Linked DNA regions of Homo sapiens: region 1 is linked to region 2. The links come from fine-mapping of genetic effects on gene expression. Tissue or cell type: whole blood. Region 2 holds a variant in brackets; the other region holds the start of a gene. Each region is shown on its reference strand, or each on the opposite one.

What was found. PIP is the estimated chance that this variant, and not a neighbour inherited with it, causes the effect. A credible set is the group of variants that fine-mapping cannot tell apart.
Region 1: SPTSSB starts here. The variant in region 2 is the best candidate, but not a certain one, in a credible set for the expression of SPTSSB in whole blood (TOPMed, PIP 0.70).

What each region holds. Positions count from the first base shown.
Region 1 is chr3:161,366,586-161,375,679 of GRCh38, reverse strand. SPTSSB (serine palmitoyltransferase small subunit B) reads left to right here and starts at 4,163. Exons shown (of 3, transcript NM_001040100.2): 1 at 4,163-4,245. RefSeq lists enhancers at 3,581-4,135, 4,136-4,690.
Region 2 is chr2:111,046,587-111,055,680 of GRCh38, reverse strand. It overlaps ACOXL (acyl-CoA oxidase like), which reads right to left. Exons shown (of 18, transcript NM_001142807.4): 16 at 6,393-6,463. LOC124907866 (a long non-coding RNA gene) reads left to right here and starts at 5,504. Exons shown (of 2, transcript XR_007087182.1): 1 at 5,504-5,620. RefSeq lists a silencer at 5,535-5,829 and an enhancer at 5,535-5,829. The variant C/T (reference allele first, on the strand shown) is at 5,581.

The DNA of each region.
Region 1 (9,094 bases), not on the chromosome of region 2:
TGTAGCTCATGCATAGTTTCATAGGAACTCAAAAAAAATGTGGTAAGCAAAAATAAAGGGGGGAGCAGGCAGGAAGGAAGGAAAGAAAGAAGAAGCAGGCCTCATTTTTGCCATTTACACCTTGTAGAAAAGGGGCTAAGTTATTTTTAGATTTAAGAGGATCTTTCCAAAGCAACCCAAGGGTACTCAGTAATGATACTTGGATTTCTCTGATTGCTGGTAAGTCATGGAGTAGGCGCATGGTTTACTGAAAGGAAGGGAAGAAGGGGTAACATCCCAGTGACAAAATGGAAGGAATGTGAATAGCCAGAAGAGAAGTTACTAAAAGATGGCAATAAAGAAAGGCAGAATGGGGTTCGGGGTTCAGCAGGAACCATATGATGAGTACTTTGTAAATGACATTTCATTTAATTTTCAAAAGAACCCTATGAAGTCAATATTATTCCTACTTTATAATTGGGAAAACCAAGTATACTGATACAGCTAATTGTCTCAGACTACAGAACTGATTAGTAGAAAGAGCTAGGACTTGAATCCAGAGCTGTTTTTCTTCAAAGTCCATATTCTTTTCACCATGGTCAGGTTTGGAAGCTTTAGAAAAACTCACATTTTATCCTTGAATTTTCATCTGCTAAAAGTAAGATTACTCTCAGCAAATGCATGAAAGATTGGGTAGCTGACTATGGGTCATTTTAAGTGGATTCTCCCATCAACTCCTTTCTTCTTCCTGATATTGTAGACTCCAGAGACATCCCAAAAAAACCTAAACACAGTTTTACAAAGTGGACCCATTCCTTTCCCAATAATATCTGTCTCCAAACATCTCAGGTTACCTAGGGGAATACACACTAGTGATGATTACTTTTGAAAGTTTTCTACTCCAGCAGTGTGTTTTTTAGTTATGCGATAGAAACTTTAGGATACTGATGATGAAAGGCCTGGTTCAAAATGATCAGTTGATACAATTATCATTACTTTATGTTCTTACACTATTATATTCTTAACAATTCTGCCTGGTTCTTCAAATTTCATTCACCTCTGCACAAGCTGTAGTGCTAACTAATTATTATCTCACAAGTTCCAGTAATCAGAACAAAAGAAGATGCCATCTCATGCACAAAAAAATATCAATTGAGGTGCTTTTTAAATTTTTTAATATCTTCCTTATCTGTGGTTGTATGCCACCTTTCTTTCCTAATGTTATCTGTATCTTCTCTGCTTCCTGATCTTTTCTAGATTTATTTCTTGATCTTTCCAGAGAATATTTTTTTCTTTTCTTGATCAAGTCTCCTTTTTCATTTTTGTTTTTGTTTTTTACTTTCCTACTTTATTATTTTCTGCTGTTATCTTTATTAGTTAACATAATTCTTTCACAATTTTTTCTAAGTCTCCTTGTACATTGTTTTGCAATAAAGACACTTAGTGTGTAATTTCATAGATTGTTTGGCTTTTCTGTATTCTCTCAATTTTGTTATGTAGGGTTTTTGTTTTTCTTCTGTTCCTAAAGAGTTTGTAATTTTCCCATTTGTGCTTTTTAATACAGATTCAAAGCATCTTTAAATTTCCAATAGTATATCAATCAGGGTAAATGTTTGTTGTTAATTTTATCCTTATTGTATTTTGATGGATGATGTGGTCTGTATGACTTCTGCCTTTTAAAATGTGTTGACCTAAGCCTGGACATCAAAATGAGACCCCTTCTCTAAGGAATTTAAAAAATAGCTGGGTGTACTGGCACGTGCCTGTAGTCTCACCTACACAGGAGGCTGAGGCGGGAGGATCACTTGAGCCCAGGAGGCTGAGACTGCAGTGAGCTGTGACTGTGCCTCTCCGCTCCAACCTGGGCGACAGAGTGAGACCCTGTCTCCAAAATAAAAATAAAAATAAAAGTGTTGACCTATAGTTTGTGATCTAGTTAAGTTTCGAGAATGTTCTATAGTTGTATGGAAAACATGTTAATATGTATTCTCCGTTTGGAGGTGCTAAGATATTCATAAAGATGTTCCTGTGTGTGGTTATAATACGTGTATGTTATTTAAGATTATTTTTAATGGTCTGAATACATCTGCCAGCTGTGCCAGTTTCCCCCAACCTCCAGTTGGAGTAGTTGCAAGGTCTCATATCCATTTCACAAACCTTTGCCAAGAAGGTCTATTTCTATATTTCCACAAATGTGCAATCACAGTATGGAGGGTGGAGTGTCACAACTAAGTGGGGGTAAATAGATAATGAAAAATAAGATTTACCAGTGTAAATAGAATTGGCCTCACCAACATGGCCTTGGTAGTCCCCGCCAAGTCCTTTCTTAGGGTTTCTATTTCCTGATCTACATGCCCTGAGTGGTCATATCTACCCTGCCAATATTGCAAGGTGTGTCGCGAGAAGCCAAAAGATAAGGAATGTGACCAACATAAAGTGATAAAGAAATAAATAACACTAGCAGTGGTTGCTGCTATTTAGACACGGGAGCAGAAGGAAATGATAACTACGTAAAATGGCTAACACGGGCCCAAGCAGGTGCTCTGTTTCTATTGGTTCCCTTCCCTGCCCCCATCTACCTTTAGCTTCCTCTGGGGACATCCTCCCTCCTGCATGGAGACACCACCGCCCAATAACGTGAGCCTCCCTCTTCGTAATAGCCCTGGCAGTGTGGAACCCGCTGAAAGCGCGTTGTGAGGATGAGCAGAGACCTGCCAGCAGCTAAAATTCGCGCTTTAACACAATCAGCCCTGGCCGAGCATGTGCAGTGTCTCCTCCTTCGGCAGTGGGGGCTGATGGGCAGATACTGCCCAAATGCTCATTCATCAAAAGAGGCTTTCGCTCCCGGACTCCCCTGGGCCTCGAGCAGAAAGCGTCTCGGCCACGGAGATACAGAACCGGGAGCCTTCAAGGTCCTCCGCCACTCTCAGCAAGCCCTGCTCTCGATGGAGAGGAGATCGCTGGGTGATGGATGTGGGCTTCCAGGGAAGGTGCTCGCGCTGGTCCCGAGCCCTCCGGGGAAGATATTCGAGCGCGGAGCGTAAGCGCAGGGCACGCCAGCCCCGGGAGCCGCGGGAGCAGGCGCCGCGCGTCTCTGCACCACCGGGCCGCCTCCCAGCCTTCTTTCCCCAGTTTGCCCTCCTGCCGCAGTCCGGGCCGAGATTAATTCTCTGCACTTGTGAGTGGGCACACACAAGTTCTCCGGGCACGATCCTTTCATCTATTTCCCTGGGGGAGTCCACCTTTTTAACGATTAACCTCCTAGCTACCGCGGGCAAGGTGGCAGGATGCGAGTGGGGCGGGGAGGGGCGTTTCACACGTTCAGAGGCACCAAAATTAGCTGCCAGTGCTAAAAGGCTTTGCTTTCTTCGGTTTTTGACAAATAAATGGGGTGGGATGCTTGCTTGGCCGCCCGCTGCCCCAGCCCGAGCCCTGGGCTCACTTAGCAGCCTGATGCCGAGTTTCAGACGCAGTCCTGCTGCGCTTACACCCGGGCTTCTTCGCCCCCTTGCCAAAGTCTGCAGCCCGATGGATGCTGGGCGCGGGCTTTCCCTGAGCGCTTTAACGCAGCTTAGGCTAAAGCCCCAGAGCTCCCACCTTCTACCTCCTGTTTATCCGCCCGCCCCTCTACCACCGCCAAAGGACGTGCCCCTTCAGTAGAGTCGGGGATCCCAGCCCCAGAGCGGGGGAGGGCGCCTCCCTATCCCCTCCTCCCCGTCCCCGCCTCGGCTCGGGGTTTTACTGCAGCAGCCGGAGGTGACAGCGACGCCTCAGCCGCCTCTGTTGCTCTCGGAGCCCCGGCTTCCCCTGCACCGGGAAAGCGCCCCCTCTCGAGAGGCTGGTCCCTGGAGAACTGCGAACGAGCTGCAGAAAACCAGATTTTAAAATGTAGAAGTCGTTGGGCTGCATTCCTCCGAGGACCAGTCTGATCGCCCAGGACTAAGAGTGGCAGCGTATGAGAAGTTGGGACCATAGAGCAAGGGGGGGAGGGGAGTGTTGCAGCAGGCATTCTCTTCTGGAAGGAGTCGCTGGGAGCAGTGCGGTTGGACACAAGTTTGCGTAGGAGTGTTTTCCTTTTGTCAATAATTAATCACCGGAATTAGCCAGGTAGAATTTGAGTTTTAGCAAGAGTCCTGAGGGCGGGGCCGAACACCTAACTCCGGGAGGCTCCCAGGCGCCCGGCGCAGTGGGAAGCTCGCAGCAGCTGGGGAGGAGCCAAAGCCTCGGCGCTCACCTAAGCCGCAGGGAGATACACCCAACTGGGAGGTAAGCATCTTCCAAAATACCTACTTGAACTGTTAAGTAGCTTTAGTAGGATAGAATTCCTGTCTCTATAGGAGGAAAAAATTAATACTGAGCTTTAATGCAATTTATCAGTTTATTATTTAACTGCATTACAATTTTCAGAATTGATGGATTTTTCCATTTACCTTTCACTATGTGGGAAACTAAGATGTTTCACTCAGTAGAAGCCAAACTTTAACACTGAAACTTTCCAAACTAAAAGAAGAGAAAATTTCTTTACTATTTTCACTATTTACCTTCGTGTAGTCCATTAACGACTCAGGAAAATATCATTGGGTTGTGCTTGGTTTCCTTCTTAAATATTCATCTTTACCTAGTTCCGTGCTCCTATACAATCCCTCTCTGCCCATAAGCTACTTAAACTACTGTACTTTAGGCAATAGTACACACAAGTCACCTGCCAAAAAGTGAAGAATTTCCAACAAGGAATACATTTTAACATTCTCTTGTAAGTATTAAGCAGTATGTATTTTCTCAAAGATACTTAAGTCATCCTTTATAAGTAACCAAACTTCTTCACCAAAAGACAGCCAGCTAGAGTTAGCTAAATAGTTAACTTTGCCATGGGGATGAAGAAGGTGGGGAAATGTTTAGAGTAGCATTTTAAATATGAGTTGGACTCCAGATTTGTTTCAACTAAAGTGACATTCAACTGGTTGGCAATTCACATATGAGCCCAGTCCACAATCACATAAGGAGTTTGAAGAATTGTTAAATGTAAGAACTAGCCCCAAAGTCCAAATAACTGCATCAGGGGAGTTGGGAAAATTGTTTTTCAAAAAGATTTTGTGGTGCAGTACTTATTTTGAATTAGACAAAAATTAAGAAAGACATGGTAATTTTTGCTAGTGAAATTCTAAAATGTATACATAAAAGTGTTGAATTTTTAATAACTTGATTTCCACATCTGAATTATTCCTATGCTGTTTAAAACAGGTCATTTCGGTGACTTTCTCAAGGGCTGTGAAGGCTTTGTACATAGATAACTAGACCAAAACCAACAAGCTGTAGTATGAAATGTACTGTCACTCTCATTATCCAGATATTTATTTACAACTATTTAATGATAATAAATTAAAAATTATTTGTCAAAACAAAGCATGGTCATTCTAGAATTCGACTAGATTTGAAGTTGAAAGTCGATTTGAAGTTGAAAATCAACCAGTCCTCAACTCTCATTGGTTTTCTTAATTCACTGTAAATTTGCAAATACTTTTATAAAAACTGCCCTTTATAATTGTACAGCAATTCTATCTCTACTATGCTAATTATAAAGAGAGTTTTGCCACTATCTTACCACCAAGTATAAAAGAAACAAAATATTCATAAAAAATGATCCAAATGGGACTCACTTCCAGAATGGTGATGTGAAGAGCTTTTCAAATCCACTCCCTAAAAACAACAATAACTGGTGAAAATTATAGATAAATAACCATTTAAAGTTCCTGGTAATTGTCCTAAGGACATACAGCACGAAGAAAATATTTATTCAAGACAATCTCTTATATTTCAGTAAGAACTGCAAACAATTGTGATGCTTGAACCACAATATATTTCCCCACCCTCTCCAGTTGAGTGTGATGATGTTCCAGTAAGGATGGGTGCAGCCACTAACGCAGGGCCCCCTCTCAACCTAGATCCTCGTCTACAGTATACCCTGAGAGAAGCAGGCCACCAGCATTACTCATCATCCCCAGCTTTGTGTTTCAGAGCTCTATTCTAGATAAGAGCAACTGAGAGTTCTGAGGCTCTCTTCCTCCAACCATCCTCCACTCTTAAGACAGAAAATGAAGAACTCAACAACAAGAACACAACTCATTTAAAAGTGGACAAAAAAATTTGAATAGACATTTCTCCAAAGAGCAGGTAGAAACAGCCAATTTACACATGAGAAGGTGTTTACTAGCCATTAGTGGTTGGGGAAATGAAAATCAAATCAAAACCACAGTACAATCCCACTTCACACCAACCGGAATGGCTATCACAAAAAAAAAAAAAAAAAAAAAAAAAGGAAAGAAAGAGAGACAGAGAGAGAAAGAAAGAGAAAGAAAGAAAGAAAGAAAGAAAGAAAGAAAGAAAGAGAAAGAAAGAAAGAAAGAAAGAAAGAAAAGAAAGAAAGAAGAAAAAGAAAGAGAAAGAAAGAAAGAAAGAGATAATAGCAAGTGTTAGAGAAGATGTAGAGAAAATTGAACTGTCATATATTGCTGGTATTGCTGGTGGGGATGGAAAATGGTGCAATCGCTATAGAAGAGAGTTTGATCGTTCCTCAAAAAGTTGAGAATAGAGTTACCACATAATCAAGCAATTCCACTCCTAGGCATATATTCAAGAGAATTGAAAACTTATGTCCGTTCAAGAACTGTACACAAATGTTCATAGTGGCATTACTCATAACACCCAAAGAAGCTGATTGAAACAACCCAAGTTGTTTATTGAATGATGAATGGATAAATAAAATGTAGTATGGAATGAAATGATAAAATATTATTCAGCAATGAAAATCATGTGGCTGATACATACTACAACATGGATGAACATTGAAGAGATTACGTTAAGTGAAAGAAGACCACATACTATATGATTTATTTACATAACATATCCACAATAGGCAAATCTATAGAGAAAGTAGATTAGTTGTTTCCTGAGGCTGCAGTAGAAGGTAAGATTAGGGGCCGGGCGCGGTGGCTCACGCCTGTAATCCCAGCACTTTGGGAGGCCGAGGCGGGCGGATCACGAGGTCAGGAGATCGAGACCATCCCGGCTAAAACGGTGAAACCCCGTCTCTACTAAAAATACAAAAAATTAGCCGGGCGTAGTGGCGGGCGCCTGTAGTCCCAGCTACTTGGGAGGCTGAGGCAGGAGAATGGCGTGAACCCGGGAGGCGGAGCTTGCAGTGAGCCGAGATCCCGCCACTGCACTCCAGCCTGGGCGACAGAGCGAGACTCCGTCTCAAAAAAAAAAAAAAAGAAGGTAAGATTAGGGAGAAAACGGGAGTGACTAAAGGGTACAGTGTGTCTTCTTGGGGTGATGCAAATGGTCTAAAATTGACTGTCATGATGGTTGCAATACTGTAAATATACTAAAAACCACTGAATTGTGTACTTTAAGTAGGTAAATTGTATGGTGAGTTTTATCTCAATAAAGCCGGTTTAAAAAAATTTTCCAGAGTATTAAAAGAACAAATGGGTTTAAAACTTAGAGTTGCTGAATCCGCATGTGCCATTTGACCAATAGTTTATGTGAGGCTTTTCCCCAATGACCACATTAAAATATATGAAATATTTAAGAATTTCACAGGTGTCACACAGCTATGTGATTCACATATGTTTACATGCCTGCCCAAACTTTTCTCCACTTAGAATTAAGTCAAATGTCATTAGTATAGTCCTACAAAGAATTTGCTTGCAATGCTATATCTTTTTGGACTCATCAATTCGTTATATTAATCCAGGACCTGTGAGGCCACTTGTTCCTCCTACTTCTAGATATGTCTAGTCCTTTATCAGTGATTCAGGCCAGCGGTTGAGTTTGTTCAGGCCCACATTGGGTGAGAGAGGAAGGTACCTGGATCTCAGCCAAAAGTGTACTTGCCTTCTACTCAGATTAACCCAGTTTTGCCTACACTAGACTGGCCCTAAAAGCCAGAGAGTCTTGGGAAGAGGAAAAGCTGGAGCAGCCACTGAAGTCTTCACAGCATACTAACATGTCATTGTCAGAAAGCATCTGCTGTGATTACGACAACCTCAAATGCAGGAGACTCTCCCAAATAATTAATATGTTCCTCTATTCATCTTTTATGTTTTGAGTTCCCACAAGCTGCCTGATCCTGTACTAAGAACCATGAAATCAAATGATAATGCTTCGTCCAGAAATGGAAATATAAAACTAGTGAGCCTCAGAGTGTCATGGGGGTGGCAAGCAGCCTCAGCCTTGCTGCCAGACAGTTATTAGTTCACTGAAACAAACCATACCCTTAGCTTTAGGGATTTAAGTCTACCGGCTTCAGGAAACCTCAAGATTTTCCATTCTCACCAGCACAGGCTTATTCTTTCATGTGTATGTTTTTGAGGAGCATATCATGCTGATTTGTGTGGGTTTTGACCATGAAAGCTTTTGTAGAAGTCCACTGTAATATTTTCTCTAATTAAAAGATTTATATAAAATAATTTTTAATGTCCAGCAATTTATTTATTTTATTTTTATTGATTTATTTATTTTGAGACAGAGTTTCACTCTTTTTGCCCAGGCTGGAGTGCAATGGCGTGATCTCAGCTCACTGTGACCTCCGCCTCCCAGGTTCAAGTGATTGTCCTGCCTCAGCCTCCCCAGTAGCTGGGATTACAGGCGTCTGCCACCACGCCCAGCTAAATTTTCTTGTATTTTAGTAGAGATGGGGTTTCACTATGTTGGCCAGGCTGGTCTCAAACTCCTGACATCAGGTAATCCACCCACCTTGGCCTCCTAAAGTGCTGGGATTATAGACGTGAGCCACTGCACCCGGCCCAGCCATTTGTTTATAAAATCAATACATGTAGGAAAAAACTTGATTATAGTTACTTTTAAAATATTGCTTTCATCAGGATTAATAATTCATTTATTCAACAGATTTTAAAAAAGATAAATGAATTATTGCACACCTACCCTGTACCAGGTCACTTCTAGGCCCTGGATAAGTAATAAACAAAATAGACAAAAATTCCCAAGATGTCAAACATTAATAATAATAAGTAAATTACATAATGTAGATAAGGGCTCTGAAGAAACATAAAACAGAGAAAAGAACGAGCTACAATTTTAAATAGTGAGATCA
Region 2 (9,094 bases):
TCCCATTCCCAGCCCCAGATGACTGAATGGTGATGTGGGTACATGTGATGCATTCACAGGGTGTGTGGCCACAACGGGCAGCCCCTGAGTGCCTCCACTTGAGAGGCAGAGGGAAGCCCTTGCTGGTCGGAGCTTAGGACTCTCTCAATGGCATGGGGCCAAGATGAGGTCCTTGGGCATGGCAAGAGCCACCTGCAGAAGGAAGGACATCATGGTTTGCACTGTGCATGATGGAAGGTGTGTGTAGTTAATTATTGGCTGCTAGGTTTGGTGCTTAAACTAGCTACCACCTACACAGGTTGAGAAAAGGAAGAAAAAGCAGTTAGAATGCAGGAAAGAGGGAAAAACCCCACCTCACCCACTTGACAGGCTCAAACTGCTGCTGCTAGCCGCCTGTGAGGTGGGGACAGTCCCCTGCAAATGCCCTGCTTAGACACTTGGGTTGCCGTGGCGAGCACCTTACGAGAACCAAAGGCGTGAAGGCCTTCTCTGAGCACAAAGGCAGACAAAGGCACCTGCCTGGTCCTGCAGGACCAGTCCCCATGCTGGATACTGAATGGCTCAATTACTATGCCTTGGACCAAGGTTGGGGGTGGGTGAGGAGGAGAACTTTGGAAGAAGTGAAGCAGAAAGAATCTTTATGACAATGACAATTTAAGAAACATTAGACAACCAGCTTGCTGAGGTGCTTCTAAACCTTCTGTGGGGAGGTGAAGCAGTGGAGCAGTCATGTGGAAAATTCCCTTTCTCCTCCATGCACAGTCATTCCCAAGCTGAGGGAAAGGCATTGTTTTTCTTGTGAAAACCCTCATTCTGGACAGGATTCCATCAGGCTAGGGGAAAATGCCTTCGCCTGGGAAGAAGTTGTATTCAGTAAGCATGGAGGACTGAAGGGTTGAGTCATGTCGATCTCTTGGAGATTTTTGGTTGCCAGGAGGATTCAAATGTGTCTGACTTCTTAAAATGTAATTAGACAGAGAAAGGGTTGCATCTGGCCAGACCATGGTGGCAGGGGACGTGGAGGGAGGCCTGGCGTCCCTCCTTCCACACGCTCCCAGGCGTCTCTGTGCATTTGGGGGCAGCATTCATACTTGGCTGGTAAGAAATCCTAAGGAAGCTTCCAGCAGCATTCAGCCCCCACACCTCCCATCAGTGGAGCCTTCCTGGGGAGCTGTCTCTGCAGGCTTGCTCAACCTGGGCTGCAGCTCTTGGCAGCTGTACCCACCGACCCTGATGGGCCCCTGCATGTCCCACTGGGTAGACAGCAGCTATGAATACTGTTCTACATGTCTGCTTAGATCAAGGTATCATCTGTTGCACCACCAGCAGCCTGCCCACCTCAGCCAGCCCTCCACCTAGAACAAGAGGGAGCATGGTTGCTGCTGGTGCGTGACAGCCCTGCCAAAGGTTGCAACTTAGGAGCAGAGATTCAAGGCAGTGCTATAAATAAGCCAAGCTTTATTTTCCTACAGGCAGCTTGGTTTTTCTACTGTGTGCTGCCATAAATGTGGTAGATATCAGATCCACCTATAGACAGGCCTGCCTTGAGCCTCCCATGGTGCTTCTAGCCAGGTACCTTTGGCAAGGTGACCGAGCCAGGCCATAGCTGGGACTGTAGCATGGGGAATGTTCCAGGCACTCACTCAACATCACTAGAGCAGGGAAGGCTTGCTCTGAGCCAACCCTTGTTCTACTGTCTTGTTCCAGGTATAACCCATCAGCCAAAGCTCCTTCAATACTAGCTCTTGTCTCCTGACCTGGTCAGAAGCATTTACCAGCAAGGGCCACTTTCCTCTGACCATTCTATTTAAATATTTTCCAGCTTATCCGAGGGAGGCAGGGAGGCTCTGCAGGCGATGGCTTCAGGAAGTTTTAGTCCCATGGAGGCCCCTGGCTGGGGCTATCTCCCACCCAAATTGGAGGCAGCTGCTGCCAGATATGTAAGAAACTCCCAGGTGTGCAAGAACAAAATGAGGAGGTGTGATCATTTACATTCAGTAAATGATGGTGCGAGTGCAGACTGTCACCAGGAGATCTGTCTTCCTGCCAACTTCCACCCTAAACAGAGGCTCTGATTTTTAAGAGGGGACAATCCTAGTGGGAGTGGGGACAGGGAGGGTCTGGACCAAGCACTGAGAAAGAGGCCTGCTAGGCAAAGTCAAACCATGTGATTGAGGGAGAGGCTTTGGCCTTGATTCAAATCTAGGCTGACCCAATGCCCTGGTTTGCCTGGGACAGTCATGGACTATGCCTGCCATCCAAGTTCTATTTTTAATGGTGCCCCTTTCACTCACACACACACACAAAATCCATGTTTGGATGATAAGTTTTGTGATTACCCTATTCCAAAGATGAGAAGGAGTTAGGCTAGAAATGCATCCACAGAGTGACATGTAGGACGTGGGGCTCCAAGCAAGTTCACTTGGCAGCGCCTGGAGGAGAGAGACGAGTGGTAGAAGGCCAGGTTGGTTCATTCTCAAGCATATTTAGAATTGCAGCCTTGTCGATAATTTTCACTTATGACTTTGCAGAGTGTGATGCTGGAAGGGTCTTTGGGGTGGTCTAATTTACCTCCTCTTTTACTGGAAGAGGACGTTAGGCTAAAAGAGATAAAAGTGACCTGCTCAAGGTTACACTCCAGTTGCTGGCAGAGTGGGGATAGAAACTTGTCCTTAAGGGGTCAGGTCCAGGTACTCTTTGCTGGGACAGAGGGAGATGGAGGACCCTGAAAGAGGCTGCAGAGGATGAACAGACACATGGAAACTTCCATGGCAGCTCCGGGACAGGGAAGTGCCACAGACTACCCCACAGTTCCTAGATTGGGGGGGTGGGAGGACAGAAACTGGTGGGGTTTAGACTTGCTGAGCTTGCTTGGACGTGAGCTCAGGTGACACCTGGAGTCACAGGCGAGTGCAGGTGGAGCCAAGGGCAAATGGGCTCTCCAAGGTAGTGACCGAGAGGGACCAAAGAGATTAATTGGCAAATAGGACTAAGAATCAGTGAAGAAACAGGTAGGTATGGAGATCAAACGCGAACAGGGTCAAATGAGTAATTTATGGAATCTAAATATTGTTCTATGGTTCAAATTGTAGTGAAATCTGAGAGGCAACTCCTGATAACAGCTATCTTACCCTTGGGTACCGTTTCCCTAGCCCCCTTCTCGGGTCTGCAGGGTCTGTTACTTAAGCCAGTAACAGCTTCCACCTCTGCTTGGTAGATGGGAAACTGAGTCACAGAGAAGCTGGCTTTCTCCTGTCTTACAGGACCCCCAGCAACAAGGATGTGATTAACAAGCCTTGAGAGTGACTCCAGAAGCCTGCCACCACAGTACCCCTCATGGTTCCACTGCAGTCACACCTCCCGTGTGTGCTCTCATGGTGCTGAAGGGGTGGAGTGGTGGAATTTTCTATGAATTTGCTCATCTGAGTGGGCCCCGCAGGAAGAAGCCCAGCTTTCTGGTCCTAGTTCTATTGCCGGCTGACTAGCTATGCAATGGTGGCTAGTCACTTGTTTTCCTGTCCCTCCTGCTTTTCCTGGTTGTCAGATGAATGTTCTGGCTTATGCCATCTTCAAAATCTCAATGTTTTTGTCTTTGCAGGGGAATCTGACCTTGGTTCAGCCATCTGATGAACCAAGTTCATCTCTTGCATCTTCTTGGCAGTCTGTCTATAGAGCATCTTCTCAGGTTAGGCAAGGTGGAGCTATGTGATTGAGGGAGGGGCTTTTGACTTGAGTCAAAATTAGGCTGCCTGGGACAATCATGGACCATGCCTGCCATACAAGCTGCATTTTTAATGGTACCCCTTTAAATATTTGTGCTCAGATCTCAATTACCCTTGACAATGTAGAATGCAACATTGGAATGTTTGACAATGCAGGAATGCATGCAAAATATAATTTTAAAAAATATCAGCTGGGCGCAGTGGCGTATGTCTGTAATCCCAGCACTTTGGGAGGCCGAGGCGGGTGGATCACCTGAGGTCAGGAGTTCAAGACCAGCCTGACCAATATGGTGAAACCCCATCTCTACTAAAAATACAAAAAATTAGCCAGGCATGGTGGCAGACACCTGTACTCCCAACTAGTGGGGAGGCTGAGACAGGAGAATTCCTTGAACCCAGGAGGTGGAAGTTGCAGTGAGCTAAGATCACGCCACTGCACTCCAGCCTGGGTGACAGAAGAAGACTCTGTCTCAAAAAAATATATATCATATTTGGCCCAGATCTACGTTTTTTGCCTCCAACAAGTTTTCATGAGGTTAAGTTAAATGTGGGAATTTATTTCAGACAGTCTGCAAAGTGGATAGCTCACTAGAGCAAACATACAATCACCTGCAGGCTGACTGTAGTCAAAATAATCTACTGTCACCCTGAATAGGTTTTCTCACATAACATCTACAAAAACCCAGCATACCATTGTCACACCCACATGGTGCCTTCTGATATGTGACATTAGAAAACCTCAATCTCCTAAAAAAAATCATAAAATAGTTTCAGTATATATGAACTCGGCACACGTTTTTGTTCAGTGAAACTTCTTTCTTTGATGATGCCTGTTCAAATATTTGCAAATATTGAGAAAACGCCCACATAAATCATCCTCTGTTGCTGAGGCCACACAGTCTGCAGAAACCAACAGGTAAGACACAAAATACTGAACGCCACTGGAGGTCACGCAAATTCCAGGAAACCTCAGGCCATCTTAGCCTTCCTCTCCCAACCCCAATCTGTTAGTTTCTAACCGAATGTGCTAGAGAAGCCAGCCAGAGCACCATGAAAGTCAGCAAGAAGGTGAAATGGTGAGAGGAGGAGGGGCCTTTGGTTACATCTCTTTTCACCTCTCACTCTAGATGTGAAGAAACTCAGAGGGGGCTGCGGCATCCCAAGTCGGGGAGGCCATGAGGACCACTAGAAGCAGGCCTGGAGGTGTGGTCTCTGGGGCTGGGCTCTGTCGCTGCCCTCTGTACCCCAAAATGCCTCTGAGATGCCCATGTAACCTCCAGGGGAGCCCAGGAGCTTCACCTCCTGCAAATGGGGAGAGATGGACAGTAGGAGAAGAACAAGAGAGAAGCAAGAAGCAAATGGTAGGAGAAAACACAGGATAGAGGGAAGAAAGACCAAAGGCCGGTGAGCAGAGAAAAGAGGTGAGCATCCAGGGCCCAAGAGCTGCTTCAAGGTCATGGAAAGCCAGCCTGCACCTGGAAGGAAAGGTCCTTGCAGAATAGAACTTAAAGCAGGAAACAGAGAATTAAGCGTGGCAAACAAGAAACGCCCATGTGCCTGAATCTATATCATTCTAAGTCAGTGTATCAGACGCCCAGGACTCTGAAAAATCAGGGTTCCCAGACAAACCCAACACTTGGTATGAGCAGCGCTTCTTTATTATAAAACTAACATCACTGAAAGCTTTTTTTTTTTTAAAGACCAAAAATATCACATCTTAGGCAAATGAGTTGAAAATCCCTCAGAGTGACACCCTATTTTTTTTCCACCCATTTCTAAAGTCAGAGGACACCTGGTAAAGAAGCTGGTTTTTAGATAAAGAAATGCAATTCCTGGTGCACGCGGTTTCCTGGTGGTA[C/T]AGCACTGAAGTGACATCATGGAAATATTTGTACCTCAAGGTCAGTCTGCAAGGTTTCTGTGTGAAAGCATGAGTCTTAGTGGTGGGAAAGTATGTGTGTGCACCTTTGTGATCTGCTGCTGTTTACTGCTCTCTGCTTCAAAGACAAAGTTTTAATTAAATCCAGGTGGGCAGCTTGCCAGGGTTTTCCACACTTTTGGCTCACCTAGGTAGGCAGCCTAAGTGCAGGTTATACCATTTGGAAATGCCTCTGCTCCTGTCACTTGGAAGGAAATAAAACAACTGTTCCTTGGGGCGGGGGGTTGGGGGGAAGAAGCTTGTCTTCCACTCAAGGGCAAGGAATCTATGACATAAGATGCTCATTCTGGTGGTGAATATGAACAGTCTAATTTGTGTAGCATTCCTTAAGGTGCCAAAAGTAGGAAGCAGCAGACTGGGAACGTATGGAATCCTTTGTCTTAATTAAAAATATAGTGGGAGATGTGGAATTTGGCCAAGCCTCATAAATCTGCTAAAAAAGCATCAAGACTCCATCAGATAAGTTTAAATAGAACCAACTGAGCCCTCTGGAGAGTTAAACAGATTCCCCACTCATGTGGACACCCACTCTCCTGTCACTTTCCCGCACTCCGCAGGCAGCAGTGGTGCTCGTTAACCAGCAACCCTCCAATTCGCCTATGACAAGCTTATCCCCCTGGAGCACACGATTCAGACATGATAAATTTACTCCCGCTTGTAAAAATGAAACTCTCCTCAGGGCAATAAAAACGCTCTGAGCCTTTAGGAAATAAGTTCTTTATCTGATAACCTACCTTCATTAACAAAGTCTGGTCCTCTTGGTCAGGACAGCTCTTCACTGCTAGGGAGAACTGCTCTAAGGTAACTGGAAGGGAAGAAATGGAAATTGTGAATGACTTCACTTCCGCCTCAGAGCCCTTCTGATGTGAAGGAGGACACTGTGGTTATAACAGACGTAAACAGCATGCTGTCCGTCCTTCCTTGGTGACATGGCAGAGCTCCCCAACTGTCCCCTGCATGGGTCAGGGGCCCCCGTACAGTGACTTCTCCACCCCATCAGACAGAGTCATTACAGTAGAGTACAAGGCCATTCCCATCAGCAAAGCTCCTCCCTAAACTGCCAGGAGGTCCTGGGTTCAGCTTCCTTTTGGGTCATCTTGTCCCCAGAGATGACACTCTATCTCCATTTCCTGGGACCTTCATTGAGAAGACTCCACCTGCCTTTGTAAATTTGACAGTGCTAATTTAAAAAATCTCAATCTTCCATCATGATTTCCATGGCTTTAACTCTTCTCTTGGTGTATGGCCCCAAGTGTTGACTCAAACCCCACAAACTCCCCCAAATATATAAAGTCGTCTTTCTCCAACCAACCTTCTCAAGGAGAATAGGGAAGAGAAACCCAAGAAGATTTACGAGAAAAAAAAAAAGTTTTAGTAATCCATTGAAATTGGCCATGAAAGCTCTAGGAATATTAATCTAGAAAATTTACAAAATTACATTCCCCTTCTCATATTTATGGCCAGGTTCTCATCAAAGGCTCACTTATGTGGTGACCAATTTTTATTTTGGTGTAAGTCACAGACTGCCCTCCTGTAGGCTGTGTTGACTACATTGTTTCATGCTTGAAAATGCTCCCACAATTCTCTGCCACCCTCAGATTTAAAACCACTTATTTGACACGCATTAAGGCTTTTACTAAGTTAACCCAACTAGTTTAGCCTTTGATTGCTATACTCAAAGCTGCGTTCACTCTTTACCCTCTATGACCTTTCATTGCTCTCTGCTGGGAAGAGTTCTGCCTCTTGTCTTTGAGTAGAGCAAAACTCAGTCCTCCAACTGAACATCCCAAGCCCACCCATCCAGCCAATAAAGACATTGATTGCCCTCTGGTCCCATCCCAACTCCCGCAGATCCCACAAAGGTGGGCAGAGCTAAACTCAGCCTCAAGGCTGAGGGACAGTCTGATTCCAATGATTTGACCTCAAGCATGCCTGGATGTCATGTCTACAAATACAGATATTTTAAAGAGAACTATATCAGCAATGATGAATTTTCATCAAGAAAATATTGTCTGGGTAGGTTGTTTGTAGTTTTCAATGTTACTCTAAAATAGAATTCCTTAGACTGCTTTCATCTCTGACTAAATTACTCCATGCCATCTTGACTGCTATCAGTTGTATCTGGTGCTGATTATTTCTTCCAAGTTTAAATTTTGCTCTATCCAGTCAAGACATACTTGGGATCCATAGAGAGATCAATGTTGCCTTCCACATGCTCTCCAATGCATATACCCACCCAGTCTTCAATTGGCAGAAACCAGTGTTAATTACATAGAATCATCAATTTAATCTTTTTTAAAAATTAACTTTGCCTATAAAAGTGGCTCAGCAGAAACTTGTACATTGAGATAAGGGCCCAAGCTGTGTTAAGTTTACACGAATGCTTTTGCTGTCACTCATTCAGAATACACCTGCCTGGGAAAGACCCTGGAGGCAAGACCTCTCTCCCTCAACTCCGTCCTCAGTTTTGGACTTTTGCTGTGATCTGATTTGGTGTGATAACATATTGATCTCTGACTACTGTCTGAGGATGGCTAAAGAATAATCTACAAATTCAGGTGCTAGGTTTTCTTTAGATCACCTTTTTAAGGTGGCTATTTTATTTGGTAAAGGTTTATGCTGTAACTTAGAATCTTACTTAGTGCAGGTCAGGGAAATTGAAACACTTGCTTCCTTAGAGAGCTACTGGATTCTCACTGACAGCTCTCTCCTCTCTGTGGTGACCCTGTGTTCATACTTCTCACTGCCTGTGCACTGGACTCCACTATGATACTTTTCGTTATCATAGACATAGCACCCACTTCAAGTTACCTTGAACTCTGTACATCCAATCCAAACCAGTCAACTTCCATACCAAGCCAGCCCTTTCCAACTTTTTCCCATTTCTGTGGGACTATCATCCTCCAGCCACCAGGCCACTGAGCCTGATTCTTTGATTTCTCCCTCAGGACCCCATGCCTGCTGACTCTTGTACGATGATGTCCCTTGGATGCACCACTTTCCCACAGTAGTGCTGCCACTTTGATTTCTGGAGAACTTCTCGCTCTTTCCCAGCCTCCATGCCCACTGCTGCCACCACTCTGAGCCTGGCCCTGCTGGAGCCCTATGCCTATGGCCTGCATTCCTCCTCACCACACCAGGCCTAGCCCCTCTTCCCCGTGCAAACCACCCTGATGGCTCCTGACTCTCATTCATGCAGGGTTCCATCTTGGGCCATGCACTCCCTCCCTGTCTCCTCAGGTTGGCCAGGATCCCACCTGATATGGTTTGGTTGTATCCCCACTCAAATCTCATCTTGAATTGTAGCTCCCATAATCTCCGCATGTCACGGGAGGGGACACAGTGGGAGGTAAATGAATCATGGGGGTGGTTACCCTCCATACTGTTCTCATGATAGTGAGTTCTCATGAGATCTGATGGTTTTATACAGGGCATT